Linked DNA regions of Homo sapiens: region 1 is linked to region 2. Evidence: fine-mapped expression QTL. Tissue or cell type: amygdala. Region 2 holds a variant in brackets; the other region holds the start of a gene. All regions are shown on one strand. Distances are between the middles of the regions.

Region 1 (8,281 bases), 250 kb after region 2:
AGATTCTAGCCTTGTTCCTTGTCTTTGCAATATGAGTTCTGACAAATGCATAATGTCATATATCCACTATTTCAGTATCATATATCATAGTTTCACTGTCCTAAAAAATGCCCTATTCTCCATGTATTCATCTCTTCCCTCTTTGCCTCCCTTCCCCCAAACTCTTGCAACTACTGATCTTTTACTGTCTCTATAGTTTTGCCTACTAGTGTTTTTTTCTCTCACACTTTTAAGTAAGTGCTATGCACACACAGCTTCAAGACAAGTTTCTTATCTCTGCCATCCAATCAGATTACCTCCTCTAACTCTTTTATATAATTTATCTTTTCCTAAGAACCTCCTGGAGGGTGGTGGAAGAGATCTGCCTACTATAAGCTGCAGTAGAGATAGCTTTTGTTCCCTAGTATCTATTCTTCTCTTCTTTCTTTTAATAATAAAACAATCCCACCCTGTCAAGGTTTGACTGAGCCCATGGCTAGATGCTACATTTTCTTCCTTCCTTGAATATAGATGTGACCTATGGGATATGAGCAGAAAGGATATATGCATGCAAGTAATAAGAACTGACAAAATTGAGAAAATAAGACATTTACCATGGAACTTTAAATTTGTATCCCTTTATAGGACCATACTATTGAAAGGATATTATGAATTATATTTTAAAATAAATCCTGTAATTATATTTTGAAAGACACATTTATACTGCTTTGTAATTTTTGGTAATAAAAGTGTTTATTGGTTAAAGGAAAATGACTTTGAATGTAATGCAGTTTGTATAACCCTGTTTTGAATTAAAAAAAATTTACATGAGTATCAGAAAACTAAAACAAAAAACAAAAAAGCTGAAGTTTCAAGTTTTAGAAGACTCTGTGTGAAACATGAGCATTAAAGTATAATGGACAAACAAAAGCCTAAAACAATGAGAAAAAAGAATGGCCGCATCTGTAATCCCATCTGTAATCCCAGCACTTTGGGAGGCTGAGGTGGGAGGATTGCTTGAGGCCAGGAATTCCAGGTTACAGTAAGTTATGACCAGGCCATTGCATTCCAGCCTGGGTGAAAGAGCGGGAGACTTTGTCTTTAAAAAAAAGAATGGCCACAGAGCTGGAAGGAGAATCAGGGGACTGGGTTTTACGTAAGTGAAAGGAAGCAAGACTTTTTAGAAGTGAGCAACATGTCCAAATGAAACAGAGAAATCTAATAAAATAAGTATTAAAAGAATTTAATAATTAAGATATTATAAAATGGGTATGTCATGAAGTTATGAGATTAACTATGTACATATAAATCTTCTGGAATATAATAGGCGTTCAATAAATTTTGTGATCAATTCCTTGTTTTATTCAAAGAATACTTACTACTAGTTAGGAATATTGGGACTAGAAAATAATACCCCACAATGAAACTCTCAGAAGCAGCCTCAGAAGCAAAAGTTTTTCTCTGACCTTCTCCTGCCTTCCTGTCTCTTGGTCCCATTCTCCCCTGACACTAGCCATAGAAACTAGGCAGGCCATAGAAACTAGAACCTCTTTTCCCCAAAGCCAGTCATAAATCCTGGAAATATTACTTTAATTTTCTCCCGCCTTTCTTTGTAAAAACTGGCCATAAAGAAATTATCTGATCTACCTTTTTTGACTGTAGGTCCTAAGACCCTCATTGCAGAGAGGGTCCCGCCCTACACCCAGAAGGAAGGAATGCATGCCCAGAGAGTCCAAGAAGAATCTAGACAGACAGGCCTTGCTGGGTTTCCCCACTCAGGCTATTAGCATTAGAGCATACCCTTTTGTCCAATCATATTTCTACATGGCTGTCCATACTTTGTTGGATGTACAAATGAACATTACAATTTCCCCTGTATCTTTGGGTCTTCATTCTGAAGGTTCTCATGTATATATGCTAAATAAACTTGCATGCATTTCCTCCAATTACTCTGTCCTTTGTGAGTAGATTTTTCGGTGAACCTCAGCGATCAGAGAGGAGAGCTACAGGAGCCCTGCTTGAACCTTGAAATGCTATGATGACAGACCGTAGCCTTAAAGCAGTTTATAGTGTTGTAGGGTAAACACATAAACAGGCCAATATCATTCTTTGCCATGAGGGATATGATGAGAGGAAGTACATGGAGGTTAACTGAGTTATTTCTTTTAGTTTCTTTGTTTTTGGCATGTGAATTATGAAACTTTAAAACACCTCCAGTGCAAAAAAAATTTTTTTTAAATTAACATGGTGGTTGGTGCACTGTGTTTCTAAAATATGGAGTACAATGTAAAGCAATGCATTCTTTTTTTAAAAATTTATTGTTATTTTGAAAAATTTTTGTAGAGATGAGGTCTCACTGCCTTGCCCATAGCTGGTCTTGAACTCCTGGGCTAAAGCGATCCTCCTACCTCGGGCTCCCAAAGTGCTGGGATTACAGGCGTGAGCCACTGCGCCCAGCCGCATTCTTGTTTTCATCTGTGAAATACGTTTTTAAGGTAAATACTTAAAGTTGATGGAGACACCTGGTCTACTTAAGCTCTCATTCAGAACACACTGCCTTGTGCTTTTAAAAAAATTAAATGGATAATCTAAATTGGCAGCTACCAATTAATTTATATCCATAGTTGCTAAAAAATGTTAGTGTAAGTTCATTTTTATTAGTCGCATCATTTTGAGTTTTAAACTATTTCACATGCAGTAAAATTTATACCTCTTATGGGTTTTGTCAAACAGTGGTTTAGTCACCAACACAATCACGGTATAGAAGCTCTCAAGCTCCTTTTCAGTCACCCCCTTCCTCCAGCCCTTTGCCCTGGTCGCCACTGATCAGTATTCTCTCCTTTTAAAAACACTTATTATTTGGAAATAATTATAGACACAGGAAATTGCAAAAATACTACAGCACCTAGAGTCCCGTGTACCTATCACCTAGTTTCCTCCAATGGTGACATCTTACACAACTGTAGTACAAGATCAAAAAACTATGTCATGTAGTTTGAAGGCAGGTTTTCCTTTCACTTCTTCGCCTGCATTTTCTCCTTTCATTTCCAACAAATTTAACTCTGTTGTTAGAAGGAGCAGATGCTAGTTTTCTTTCAGATGTCTGCTATTTCAGTTCGATTACCCCTGTTACTCCTACATTTTTTCTAGTCTTTATCCCCATCGTTTCGCCCCAATTTAATTTTGCTGCTAGTTTTTTTTTTTTCTCCTCTGGGATATGTGCCACAGATGGTACTATTGTCAATATTCGAATTCCTAACTTCTCCCTCCATCCGTAAGTTTTCAAGGGGTAGCCGTGCTTGTGCTTAATTGTGGTGTTTACAGGACTTTTTGTAGCGTAAGCATGCTGGCATGGTTCCCCAACCTCTTAGGGGGATGCTAGTAACCCGCTCCCCCGTCAACGAGCCGCCTTTGTGCTCCGCGGAGGGCACCGCCTGCGTTGGGTTGGAGGTGGGGGTTGGCGGGGGAGAGCTGCCCGCCAGGCGAGGGGCGGGGCCTTGGCGGGGGTGGTCGCGGGCGGCGGGGAGGTCTCGCTTCCCTCCTCTCCACCCGCTCCCAGTCCCGGCCTGGGTCTCAGCCCCGCCCTGCCCAGAGCGCGCGGCCGATCACGTCACCGGCCTGCGCTAGGCGGCCCCCACGGCGCGGGAAGGCGCAGTGCGCACGCTCCGACTCGGCCGTGGCGGACCTGACTGAAGGAGGCCGCGGACCTGACTGAAGGAGGCCACGGCCACTTCTGGTTGGCCTCGGGGCGCGCTGGCTCGGCTCTTCCTCCGCCCTCGAGGCCCCCGCAGTCCCATCATTCAGTTCCGTAGGGTCACCGGCGCGGCAGTGGCCTCGCAGGGCGCTGGGTCCCTCTCCCCAGCTCTCCTCCCCCTGGCCCCGTCGCCCCGCCCTCGCCGGGCTGGGCTGCGGGGTCAGGGGCCGAGCGGAGAGGGGTGAGTATTCCCCACAGCCCTTGCCGGTTGTCTCCTCCCGGCTCTGCTTCCCACACGGTCCTTGCCCCACTCCTAGGACAGGGAGGAAGGGCACGCGCGGGTAGGCGGGAAACAGCCCAGTCCTGAACAAAAGGCCGGGGAAGCGGGTCCCCGCCGGTAACTGCAGGCCTGTGCTGGCCGCCGCGAGCGGGGAAGGGCGAGGACACTCCCTCCTCGGGGACCCGGTCCCCGTCGCGCACACGGTGTCACCAGCACACCTGGCCCAGTACCCAAAGCACCCTCGAAGTGGGTAGTAACTACTTTGTGTTTAAAATCCACATACTGATAGCAAATCTTTGGTTGAAACAGTATTAAATTACTGGGGCTTCCAGTGGCTGAGTCCAACTTAATTTGAAGTTTCAGATTAAGTATCAGGAGGAATAACTTGATATTTAGAGCCAACAGGTCTTTCTTTTTTTTTTAAACCTCCCAAAAAACCTATAAAATCAAGAATTGGCGGGGAGGACCGGAGAATGATAAAGGAATAGTTGACTGATTTATAGAAACTTTTAGTGGCGGTAAAAATTACAAAAGTATTGGAAATAAGGCAAAAGGACAGCATGTTTTTTTCAGAGTCAAAATGGAGCCTAACAGGCCCACCTGAAGATGATTTAGATGTCTAGGGGACTATATTTTGTTTGGCATGATGATATTGATTAGGGCCTAGGCTTTGTAGTTAACATCTTTTTCATTAATGGAGATGCAAATTATTTCTGAGTGGGAGAGAAAAAAATACAGTACTCCTAAAGGTTGTAGTTTTAGTGCCTTGTAGGATATTAGCCATTTTTCTTTTCTTTTTTTTGAGACAGAGTCTTGCTCTGTCGCCCAGGCTGGAGTGCAGTGGCACGATCTCGGCTCACTGCAACCTCTGCCTCTCGGGTTAAAGCAATTCTCCTGCCTCAGCCTCCCGAGTTGCTGGGACTACAGGTGCCCGCCACCACGCTCAGCTAATTTTTGTAAGTTTAGTAGAGACGGGGTTTCACCATATTGGCCAGGCTGGTCCGGAACTCCTGATTTTGTGATCCGCCTGCCTCGGCCTCCCAAAGTACTGGGATCACAGGCGTCAGCCACCGCGCCCGGCCAATATTAACCATTTTTCTGTCTAACCTATCAAACTTACCATCCTTTCTTCAGTGTTTATGCTCAGTTCCTGAAATGCTTTTGAGCACACTAAGCCATTCAGCTTGTTCCATTGTGAGTTTAATAAATCTTTGTCACAGGTTCATTTTGAGTCATATTTATAACTTTTGTTATTGGACAATGGTCTCTATTCTTTAGTGGCAAAAACAAGTTTATGCTTCTCAGGATGGAAGGACATAGGCCCTGTGTGGTACTCAAATACATCTTAGGACTCCAAGTAGAATCCTTTCTCATTGCTTCAGAAAGGTTAAACAGTGACCAGAGGAAATGTTACAGAACTTTGACCAAAAAATAAATCCTGAGTATTGAGAAATTAAAATTAAAGTCTTGCAAATTGCAGAGTTTAAAAATTGTTATTGATATTTTAAATTGAAGAAATTAGTGGAAATAGTAGTTCTAAATTGCATACATTTGAATGTGGAGTGTTAAAAGATTATTTCCCTTGTCTCCTGTTTTATTTAGGATAAGGTTAACTGAGATTTTGGTACATGGTGGGCCATTCAAGTTATGTATAATGTTTTGTGACAAACTACATGTCGACAGTAGTTCCTGATGCCTAATACATTTCTGAGAAAGGTAAAGCAGCCCTTTAGGAAAAACAAGGAGAGTAAAGCTTACAGAAGATTTCTTAAGATGGGCTTGATTTGATTATCTTTGAAACCTAGAGATGTGTTTGGGACCCAGGAGGTTGTGTTTGAATCATAAATATAATCAGGGAACCTTAAGAAAAAAAAAGCCATGGAGATCATTTGGTGATTATCTATTGAAAACAAATGTTTTCAGGGGACAAGCAGCCTGAGTATAATAAAGCAATTAGAAAGTTGGGGAATGGAGAATAGGAGAATAAGCTGTACCTGAAGGAATCTTAATTAGGGAATGGTTGCTGAAAACTGCAGAGACAAGACTTCTCTAATGTGCTTACCTGATCACATAGTTTTATAGGATCCAGGAAGAGGGCTTAGTAATAGGAGTGTAGCTTTGAAGCTAGGGTTATTTCATATCACTGTCATGTAACATCTTTCTGAGAAAACCTTTTTATCATCTCTTCTGAGCTCAAGAACCTACACTGGTTTCCTATTGCCAATTGTTTTAAATGGAATCTCCTTTGGGTTTTTTGGTTTCTTCTTTTGGTTTTTTAAGAAGTGGGGTCTCTAAGTTGCCCAGGCTGGAGTGCAGTGGCTATTTAGAGGCACAATTAGAAGGCACTACACAGCCGTGACTCCTGGCTCAAGCAGCCCTCCTGCCTCAGCCTCCTGAGTAGTGAGGACTAAAGGCGAGAGCTATGTCTCCAAGCTTCCTTTGAGTTTTAAGACTGTAAACTTCCTGCACCCTGTCCCCAGATTCTCAATATCCCTCAATCTATACTCTCCATTCAGGTTCTTTACTGGTCTACCTCATTTCAATCTGTTCCAAGGTTCACTGCCACTGCCCCATCCCTTCTATTTCTTTCTTTCTATATCCTCCTATAATTCAAGGATTAACTGAAATCTAACTACTGTAGGGCCCAGGCTCTGGTTCCAGACTTCCTTAGGTCAAATTACTACACTTAACAGCTGTGTTACCTTGGACAAGTTACCCTCTCTGTCTCAATTTCCTTATCTATAAAATAAAGAAAATCCTAGTAATTTACCTCAAAAAGTTGCTCTGAGGATTTGTTACTAGTTCTTAATACATAGTAATATATGCAATTTTAATTATTTTAATCCATACTAATTCTTTAAACAGTGGTTGTACAATTTATCACTGTTTTTTGTTATCCATTATTCTCTGATGTTCTTTTCAATGTGAATCTTTACTTAAAAATTTGATTACTTTGAGAAGAATGTGTATTCTGAAAAATAAAAAAATATTTGGTTACAAACTATTGAAGGCAAAGACTGTATTATACTTCTTTTTGAAAGTCTCTTAAACCAAGGCTGGGTACAGTGGTTCATGCCTGTGATTCAGCACTTTGGGAGGCTGAGGCAGGCAAATTGCCTGAGCTGAGGAGTTTGAGACCAGCCTTGGCAACATTGCAAAACCCTGTCTCTACAAAAAATACAAAAAATTAGCTGTGCATGGTGGTGCACACATGTGGTCCCAGCTACTCAAGAGGCTGAGGCGGGAGGATTGCTTGAGCCTGGCAGGTGGAGGTTGCAGTCAGCTGAGATGGTATCACTGCCCTCCAACCTGGGTGACATAGTGAGACCCCCCTCTCAAAAAAAAAAAGTGTCTCAGACCTCTCAGGATGATTTGGGGGCTCAGTGTAATATTTTTTTCTTCCCATCTTACTATCTAGTTTTCTTTTTCTTTTTTGTTTTTTATTGTACTTTTGTAGCTTAGAGTTTTAAATTTAAACTCAATTTTGTTCCAAAAGTATTTGAGGTAGCTTAAACTATATAATATATAATAACATACAAAATAAAGAGAATCAAGATCATAAAAATATGAAGCTTGAATAGAAAGATGTGATTAGGGTGAGTTATACTGAAAATATACTGTGAATGTTGTAGAGTTATTTATTTATTTATTTATTTTATCTTTTTTTTTTTTTGAGATGGAGTCTCACTCTGTCGCCCAGGCTGGAGTGCAGTGGCGTGATCTCGGCTCACTGCAGGCTCCGGCCCCCGAGTTCACGCCATTCTCCTGCCTCAGCCTCCCGAGTAGCTGGGAGTACAGGCGCCCGCCACCTTGCCCGGCTAATTTTTTTTTTTTTTTGTATTTTTAGTAGAGACGGGGTTTCACCGTGTTAGCCAAGATGGTCTCGATCTCCTGACCTCGTGATCCGCCCGCCTCGGCCTCCCAAAGTGCTGGGATTACAGGCGTGAGCCACTGCGCCCGGCCTGTTGTACAGTTATTAAAGGTAGGCCACAAAGTTCCAAGCTTCATGGTGGTCAAAGGAAAGAAGGAAACATATTTATTGCCCAGCAAAAACAGCTTCCTGTGTTAAAATAATTAATTGGGAGGCCATTGCCTGAGGAAGCTCCAGTGCCCTGGGTTCCTACATAAACAGACTTACACCAAACTCAGTGTAAATGGTTGTATTCTAGGAAAATGAAACTTTAGCTTAACCAATCAGAAACCATCAACTAACCTCTAACCACTGACTTTTACTGGAATGATCCAAGTAAGGCTACTCCACTTTGACCAATCACAGATTTTCTTGGCCTTGCTTCTGCCGTTCACTCTTCAAAAGCCTTCTAACTGTG
Region 2 (8,000 bases):
ACCAGTATCTATTAACATGATACTGTAATTATTTATACATATATTCTCCATGTGAAAAATTAACTTAAAGCCAGAAACTCTTATTCTTCTTTCCTTTCTTTATGCTAATTAAAGAAGTTTTTGAAAGTAAATTAAGACAAATCTCTTTTAATGCTTATCCATTTAGGAATAAAAGGACTACGTTGAATAACAGAAGTTTCTATACAAGTTAACAAATGAGTAGTTAGCACTTTCTTTGAGATTACATAACTTCTTCCCAAATTGTTATACATTGTTAGTAAGAGTTATATATTTAGTAATTTGTCCCTTGAGAAGGTTCTTGGTTCTCTGGAAGAGGAAAAATTCATAATGACCAGTTAATGATGTCAATGTAGTTGATTACTGTTGTTAGTAGAGTATACAAATTAATTTCCCCCAACTCCATTTTTCTCTTGCTTCTAGTCCCCATAAAAACATAAAGAATAGTTTTATTCTATCTGCAGCTTGTAAGTATTCACAATGGTACATAAAAGAAACACACAGAGTAAAAGTTTGACCCTGAAAGTTGGGAGAATGAGTAGCTCTGGATACCTCTAAATTGATGCGCATTAACCCAAGTGCAGGCATATCTTTAACTGTTTTTTATTGAAACTATTAACACCCATTTCTCTGCCTCTTTAAACAAAACATCAAGAATATATTTAAAGGTCTTCCTGATTTCTGAGTCATCATTACTTACACAAGTATCAATTATTGAGCTACATCTCAATACCTCCTATAGATACTATTGCCCCAGACAGTAAGTACTCCATATAGACTGTTGGACCAGACACGGTATATATCATTACCAAGACATAGCAACAGGGACAATATTATAGACTAGTGTTTGTCCTCTGTTCCTACCTATTCATTTCCCCAGAGTTGAGGAAGGAGTTATGTATTTATCCAACAACCTCACTTCTCTATCTTCTGTCTTTTCTATGCTTCTTTGCTGAGGTGCCACTTGCGCTACCACTACAATTTCTATCACTTCTAACCAAAACACTTAACTCTGCTGCTCTCTTCTGTCTTCTCTGCTGCTTTCAATCAACTGCCCATCCATAAGAATGCAAAAACTAATTACTAAAAAACACAGCATAATACTATGAAAGCACACATTTATTTTTTAAATCAACATATATTTATAATAAATTCCAAATAAACTTTAGAGTAAGTGTGTTGAGGTATGCAAAAAATCTTACTGAAATTTTTACTGTGGTTGCACTGAATACACAAATTAATTTGGGGAGAACTGGCATCTTTAAAACATTATGTCATCCCATGGTAATTCTCTTCTATTAGTTATGTCTTTTTTCATATCCTTTAATAGAGTTTCATAATTACTCCATAATGATCTTTTGCATTCTTTTTAAAGGTTAGCTACTTGATTGTTCCTATTACGAATGTTGCTAAGTCAATTTTTTAAAAGGGGGAGGACTTGCCCTATCAGACTTTAGAACACAGTGCAAAGCCACTGTATAAAAAACATTGATACTAAACACAAATAGACAACTGATCAATGAAATATGAGAAATAATTCGTACATAGTAAGTGTGTACTACCAATCAGCAGGAAAAGTGCAAACTGCTTGTATTCTACAGGAAGAAAAATAAAATCACCCCCCACACCTCACAGCCTATACAAAGGTAAACTCCTAAGAAATTACAGACCCAAATATAAAATATAAAATTATAAAGCAAATAGAAAATGGAGAGGGATATGTAATATCGGGTTAGAAGAGCATTTCTTCAGACCACAAAAACACAAACCACAATGTGTTGATTTACATGTTGTGACGTGATGATTTAACCACTTGAAAATTAAGGATTCCTTATCAAACGCAGCTACGATGGACAGAAATAACAAATTATAACAACATCTAAAACCAACACAGGTTAATGTCTAGAATATTCAAGACGCTCCTATTGAGTAGGCAAAATGGACAAAGGATATAAATAGCCAATTCATGTTTATTTATTCAACAAATATTTATAGAGAACTTACCTTTTTAAGTGCTAGGGATACAGGTGTGAACACAGGTAAGGTCTCTGCCTTCAAGGAACTTGAGCAGAGAAAATAAATAAATACATAACATAATATAAGGTTTTGTTGTGATAAAGACAATGAAAGATAAAGCAGAACTCTCTGGGGACATGACATTTAAGAAGAGATCTGAATGGAGTGAGTGAGCCACGTGAATAAGGGGAAAGAGTTTTTTAGGCATAATAAAACAGCAAGAATGGGAGGTCTTAAGGAGAACAGAAAACAAATACGTGAAGAGATAACTAACCTCACTAATAATCAGAGAAATAAAAATTTAAATAATATACCACTTTACAAATGAAAGATTGGCAAAAATATAATGTAAGTTAATACAGAGTGCCAGTGGAAATGGAGGAAAAGAGAACTACTATGTACTCCTAGTGAGAATGTACACTAGTACAGACATTCTGGAAATCAAGTTGGCAAAACTTAGTGAAATGAAGTATATGTATATATACCCTATTATCCAGAGATCCCACTCTGAAAAATCAAAGTTCTCCCAAAAGCCCATAAGAGGACATGTATGAAAATGAAAATCAAAGTTGTCTGTGGTAGCAGAATATTACAGACAAACTAGGTGACCATCACCAGAGGGCCAGAGATGTGGTAAGTGCATTCACTGACATACCTAGAGCAGTTACAAGTTATGAAACAGATATACAGAGATCCAAATGGGTAGCGGTTTTTTGATGTTTTTGGCACTGAAATACAGTTTTAAAAAGTCTCAGATTTGCTTCAAAATAATACAGTTTGCAGAGGTGGAGTTGTGGGGAGGAGGCACTAGGGGAGGAATGGTTAATAATATGAAGCAAGATCAGCTCTGAGCTGATAATTGTTGATGCTGGATGATGGACACATGGTGGGTTGATACTTTCTCTACATTTGGATCTGTTTGAAGTTTTCTATCATAAAAGGCATTTTAACATGTTGAATGAAAAAAGAAACAGAAGATCTTTAGCACAATATAATTTATATAAATTAAAAATATGTGTGCATAAAACAGCACCATATATTTTTTAAAGAGACAGACATATTCAAAAAAACATTAGTACGAACATCTATGTAGGCAGAGAATTAGAATGAATACTGGGGATAAATGAGAACTATTTTAAATAAAACAAGAGAGGAGTCTTGCCAAAAGCTGATAGTCTGTCATTAATCTGAGGAGTTTGATGAATTCAACTTTTTGCACCTGAGGTCAGAAAAGAAACACTGAACAAATACAGAGCCCTCCGGGACCACATAGGAGATGTAACTAAATCTGATTTGGGAGGAGGGGGTATTCCTGCCCCATACCTTAGACACACTGAATCATAATCTCTGGGATCAGGCCAAAGGTTCTACTGTTCAATTTCCATTTCAGAGGAGAAACAACAGTACAGTAAGTGAAATAATATTCCAAGCTCACAAACCGGCAAGTGAAAGGGGTGGAATTCAAGCCCAGGGCCAGAACTGCCACTGTTATTCACTGTGCTACCAATGCTGCACTATTATACTTAAAACCTGCATACTATTACCAACTGAAGTTCCTAAACTGTTATTGTATCCCACAATGACACTGCTCTTAGCAACCACAGAGAAAATTAAATTCTATATAGTTTATATACCCCCAATCATCCTCATCTACTTTTTCAACAAATATCCCACTTTTCTCCAAGATAAATCCTCTCTTCCAGTCACACTAGTCCTCCCTACTGCTTCCAGGATACCCACAACACTTCTAAGCAGTTTCTCCAAACTAAAATACCCTCAATTCCCTTCTATATTTATTTATATCCCATTCATCCTACACGGTCCAGTATGCAGAACACTTTCACAGCATTAATTGAATGAACTAAAGTCCCACAGCTGCTCCATGAGGTTTCCCTGATGACTTCAGCACATACCTTTTCCTCCTTTAATTTCTTTTGCACTTACTCTGTACGCCATTCAATTAGCACCTTATTACAGTAACACCCCATTTATCCAGCGTCATTGGGAAAGGAAAGTGTTCATCAGAAGCAAATTTTCCAGAGAACCTAAGCATTAATTTAGGAAGCGGCAAAATAGAGTGAAAATAGTGCCGACTTTAGTTACAAACAGACCTAAGTTCAAATCCCAGTTCTGCCACTTACTAGCTAAGTGTCTTTGGGCAAATATCAACAAACCTTTCTAAGTCTGTTGCATTGCCTATAAAGTAGAATATACTACTAACTTCACAACATTGTTGGGGGTATTAATCACATATGAAGAATATGGGCCAGGTGCAGTGGCTCACGCCTGTAATTCCAGCACTTTGGGAGGCCGAGGCAGGCAGATCACCTGAGGTCAGGAGTTCGAGACCAGCCTGACCAACATG[G/A]AGAAACCCTGTCTCTACTAAAAATACAAAGTTAGCCGGGAGTGGTGGCACATGCCTGTAATCCCAGCTACTCAGGAGGCTGAGGCAGGAGAATCACTTGAACCCAGGAGGCAGAGGTTGCAGTGAGCTGAGATCGCACCATTGCACTCCAACCTGAGCAACAAGAGCAAAACTCCACCTCAAAAAAAAAAATCTCATGCAACATTCTTTAAATCATGACTACAACTATTAGGCACTAATGCATTAAAATCATTTTATGGAAATATTCATCAAATGCGTATAATTTGAGATTTTTCTCAGAGGACAGTAAATATAAATTGAGCATCTCTTGATAACTCATAATTCATTCAACATTTGCTCATTCAATAAATATTTAACCAGGGCCAACTATAGGCAAAGTGACTAAGGATTCAAAAGAAAACATGGTAAACATGGTCCCTGCACTCATGGAGTTTAGAGTCTACTAGTAATTAACTAATTTCACTTTGTGTTACAGGATACAAGTGAAACAAGGTACAGGGTGGAGAATAAGGGAGGACCTACTTTAGAAAGGATGGTCAGGGAAGGCCACTGGAACCTGATAGATCAAAAGAAGCCAGCCATAGAAAGGGCTGGGGAAAGGGAACACTGTCCTGAGGTGTCACAGGGCTAGCATATTCAAGGACTGAAAGAAGGCTATGGGGGATCAGGAATAAAAGGGAAAATAGCAAGAGATGTGTCTGCAGAATTAGGCAAGGACCAGATAATTCAGCGTCCTGTGAACCACCGTTAGTCTAAGTTTTATTCTAAAGGTAATGGGGAGTGACATGACAAGATAGATAATGTAAATGCAACAAGCATTTCAGGAACAGATGACTTTTTCTTATCCCTTTTTGGAGTTACCATTGACAAATCTGACTTAGCACTTCCATTTCAAAACAAAAACGGCGACAATACAGTGCAATGATTTTCAAAGTTTTACTTAAAAGGGCAGCATCTTTTTTTAAATAAATAAAACATTTCATCTAAGATGGCCTCTCTTGTCCTCATTTCATATTATGTCACCTCCTTCAGTTCCTTCTATAACAGAGTTTGAAAACATTGGTATAGAGAACATTGGTCGAGGAGTCAGAAAATTTCAGTTATAGTCCTGACTATGACTTAACAGCCATATAACCTTGTGCAAGCCACTTAATGCCTTGACTCAACTTCTCCTTTACTAAAATGGATATAATGCCTGACATGCTTACCACACACAATAATAGTGTGGATCAGATGCAATAATTTGGGCGAGGAAAGCTGTCAACATCGAGAATGTAAACTAGAAACTATATATCTTACAGATTTTGTAATAAATTCTGGTTGCTTGATTGATGTCTGAATCATTTTAAAATATTAAAGCTCCAAGCATGAATTAACTTGCGCAAATGTCCAAGCCAATTAACAAATTAGTGGGTATGGCATTAAATGAAACCAACGCATCTACTGAATCCCTACTAAAACTGAGGCCCTATGCAATGCTATAACCAGTAACAAAGAAAAACTAAATTTGATGTTTAATAGAGAATGAAGTTTAATTTTTAAATTACTTATTGAGTCTTAAAAGTCAGTATTCTGTATTTTAAAATTAAGAGAATACCTTTCAAATGTCTCACCATAAAAAATGATAGGTAAGAGAGGTGATATGTTAATTAGCCTGATTTAATCATTCCACACTGCATACATATATCAAAACACCGTATTGTACCACATAAATGTATATAATTATTTTTCAATCAAAAATATTAAAAATAAAAATTATAATGTTAATGGGTTAAAAAATAAATATGCTGTCCTCAATTTCTCAATACTTTCAAAGTGTTAAACTTACTCATTTTTATGAATCACTGAATTAGGTTATATTTGCGCATAAAAAGTTCATCTGAACTAGCCTACCTTCAAATAGGTTGGCTTCTCTCTTTAAAAAAATATAAAGAAATAACGTGAAGATAGGAATTTTCAAGCAATTATAAAACAATGTGAAACAGTAAATCCCCTTTGCAGCAATTAGAAATAGGAACTGGATATACACACAGCAAAATGGGTAGGTCTAAATGATTTCCTATGGGGCTGGGGGTTGTAGAAATGAGGAACAGGTATAGAGAATAAATGAATGAGTAAATGAATGAATGTCAATTAAACAGCAGAAAGGCCTGACATGAACCAATGATAATACCATGCCATGAACTGAGGAGTATTAACTCAATACTCTATACTTAAAGGCTTACTCTCATAGTATTTAACACTATGAGTATTAGGTTGTGATTCATAAAATGAACATGTTTCATACTTTAAAAGCACTGAGAAATCTAGGACAGCATATTTTTGCTTTTTTAACCTTTAATTATATTTATTTTTAATATTCTTGATTGAAAAGTAATTGTATACATTTATGAGATACAATGTGGTATTTTCATATAACTTGTAAGTTATATATAAGCTAGACTTAGACATCTACACTTACAGAGGGTTGACTGAGAAATAAGTGGTTATATAGATAGGTCAAAATAAATAGTTATATAAATAGGCAAATACACTAGATAGACTAAATCACATAATTTAAAATACCTATTCTAAAGGATTGACCCTTAATTATTAATCTATTTTTAATGTAAAAGATATAGGGTAACAATTTTAGAAAATACAGATATACAAAGTAAATCTTGACAGGTATTGGAGAAAGGAAAAGATCAGATTTTACCAGTGGTTATTTCTTTTTTAATTAAATGAGATGAGGGATTTCTATCCTGTTTCATGAAAATAAATCACAAGTACTTTTTACTCTATTTTTAAAATGAACGCTTCATCATTACCAAAATTACAGAGTAAGTGTACTTTTAAAAGAATTTTTTTTTTGAGATGGAATTTCGCTCTGTCGCCCAGGCTGGAGTGCAGTGGCACGATCTCGGCTCACTGCAACCTCCACCTCCTGGGTTCAAGCAATCCTCCTGCCTCAGCCTCCCAAGTAGCTGGGATTACAGGCGCCCGCTACCACGCCTGGCTAATTTTTATAACTTTAATAAAGGCAGAGTTTCACCATGTTGGCCAGGCTGGTCTCGAGCTCCTGACCTCAGGTGATCCACCTGCCTCGGCCTCCCAAAGTGCTGCTATTGCAGGCCTGAGCCACCACACCTGGTCTTGAAATGTTTACATAGTCAAAAACATCTAAAAATCTAAAAATCTACAGTTTTACTTGAGCTTCAGCGAAAAAGGCAGGAGATTCTCAAATACATTTGTTCTTGGTATAATATAAGTCATAATATAAATTATAGGTCATAATTCTGATTTATATCTTATCTTTTAATTTTCCATTGACTAGATTTTAAAAAGAAATACAATCTGGTAGAAAGGAAAGAAAAGACTTTTTACAGCTCAGTCCAAACTAAAGTAGAAACTCAGGTTCCTTTTAAGTGATGAAATTGAAGCAGTTTCATATTGGATGAGAGATGAGCCAAATGATGAACATTTTACCTCCAGAATATTCTTCACTAAAAACGTACTTAATAAGCAAATGAAAAGAAAATAATTTCTAATATATTTTTATTGTGCACACAGAAAATTTACAATCTTAACCATTTTTAAG

Evidence for each region. PIP is the estimated chance that this variant, and not a neighbour inherited with it, causes the effect.
Region 1: it holds the start of ATG10, and the variant in region 2 is fine-mapped to the expression of ATG10 in amygdala (GTEx, PIP above 0.99).

The regions. Positions count from the first base shown.
Region 1 is chr5:81,968,393-81,976,673 of GRCh38, forward strand. ATG10 (autophagy related 10) reads left to right here and starts at 3,631. Exons shown (of 8, transcript NM_031482.5): 1 at 3,631-3,914. RefSeq lists enhancers at 3,164-3,721, 3,722-4,277 and silencers at 3,292-3,621, 3,792-4,031.
Region 2 is chr5:81,722,970-81,730,969 of GRCh38, forward strand. The region is part of intron 1 of SSBP2 (single stranded DNA binding protein 2); the gene reads right to left. Among named protein-coding and RNA genes, the nearest start is that of SSBP2, 24 kb to the right of the region's middle. The variant G/A (reference allele first, on the strand shown) is at 4,400.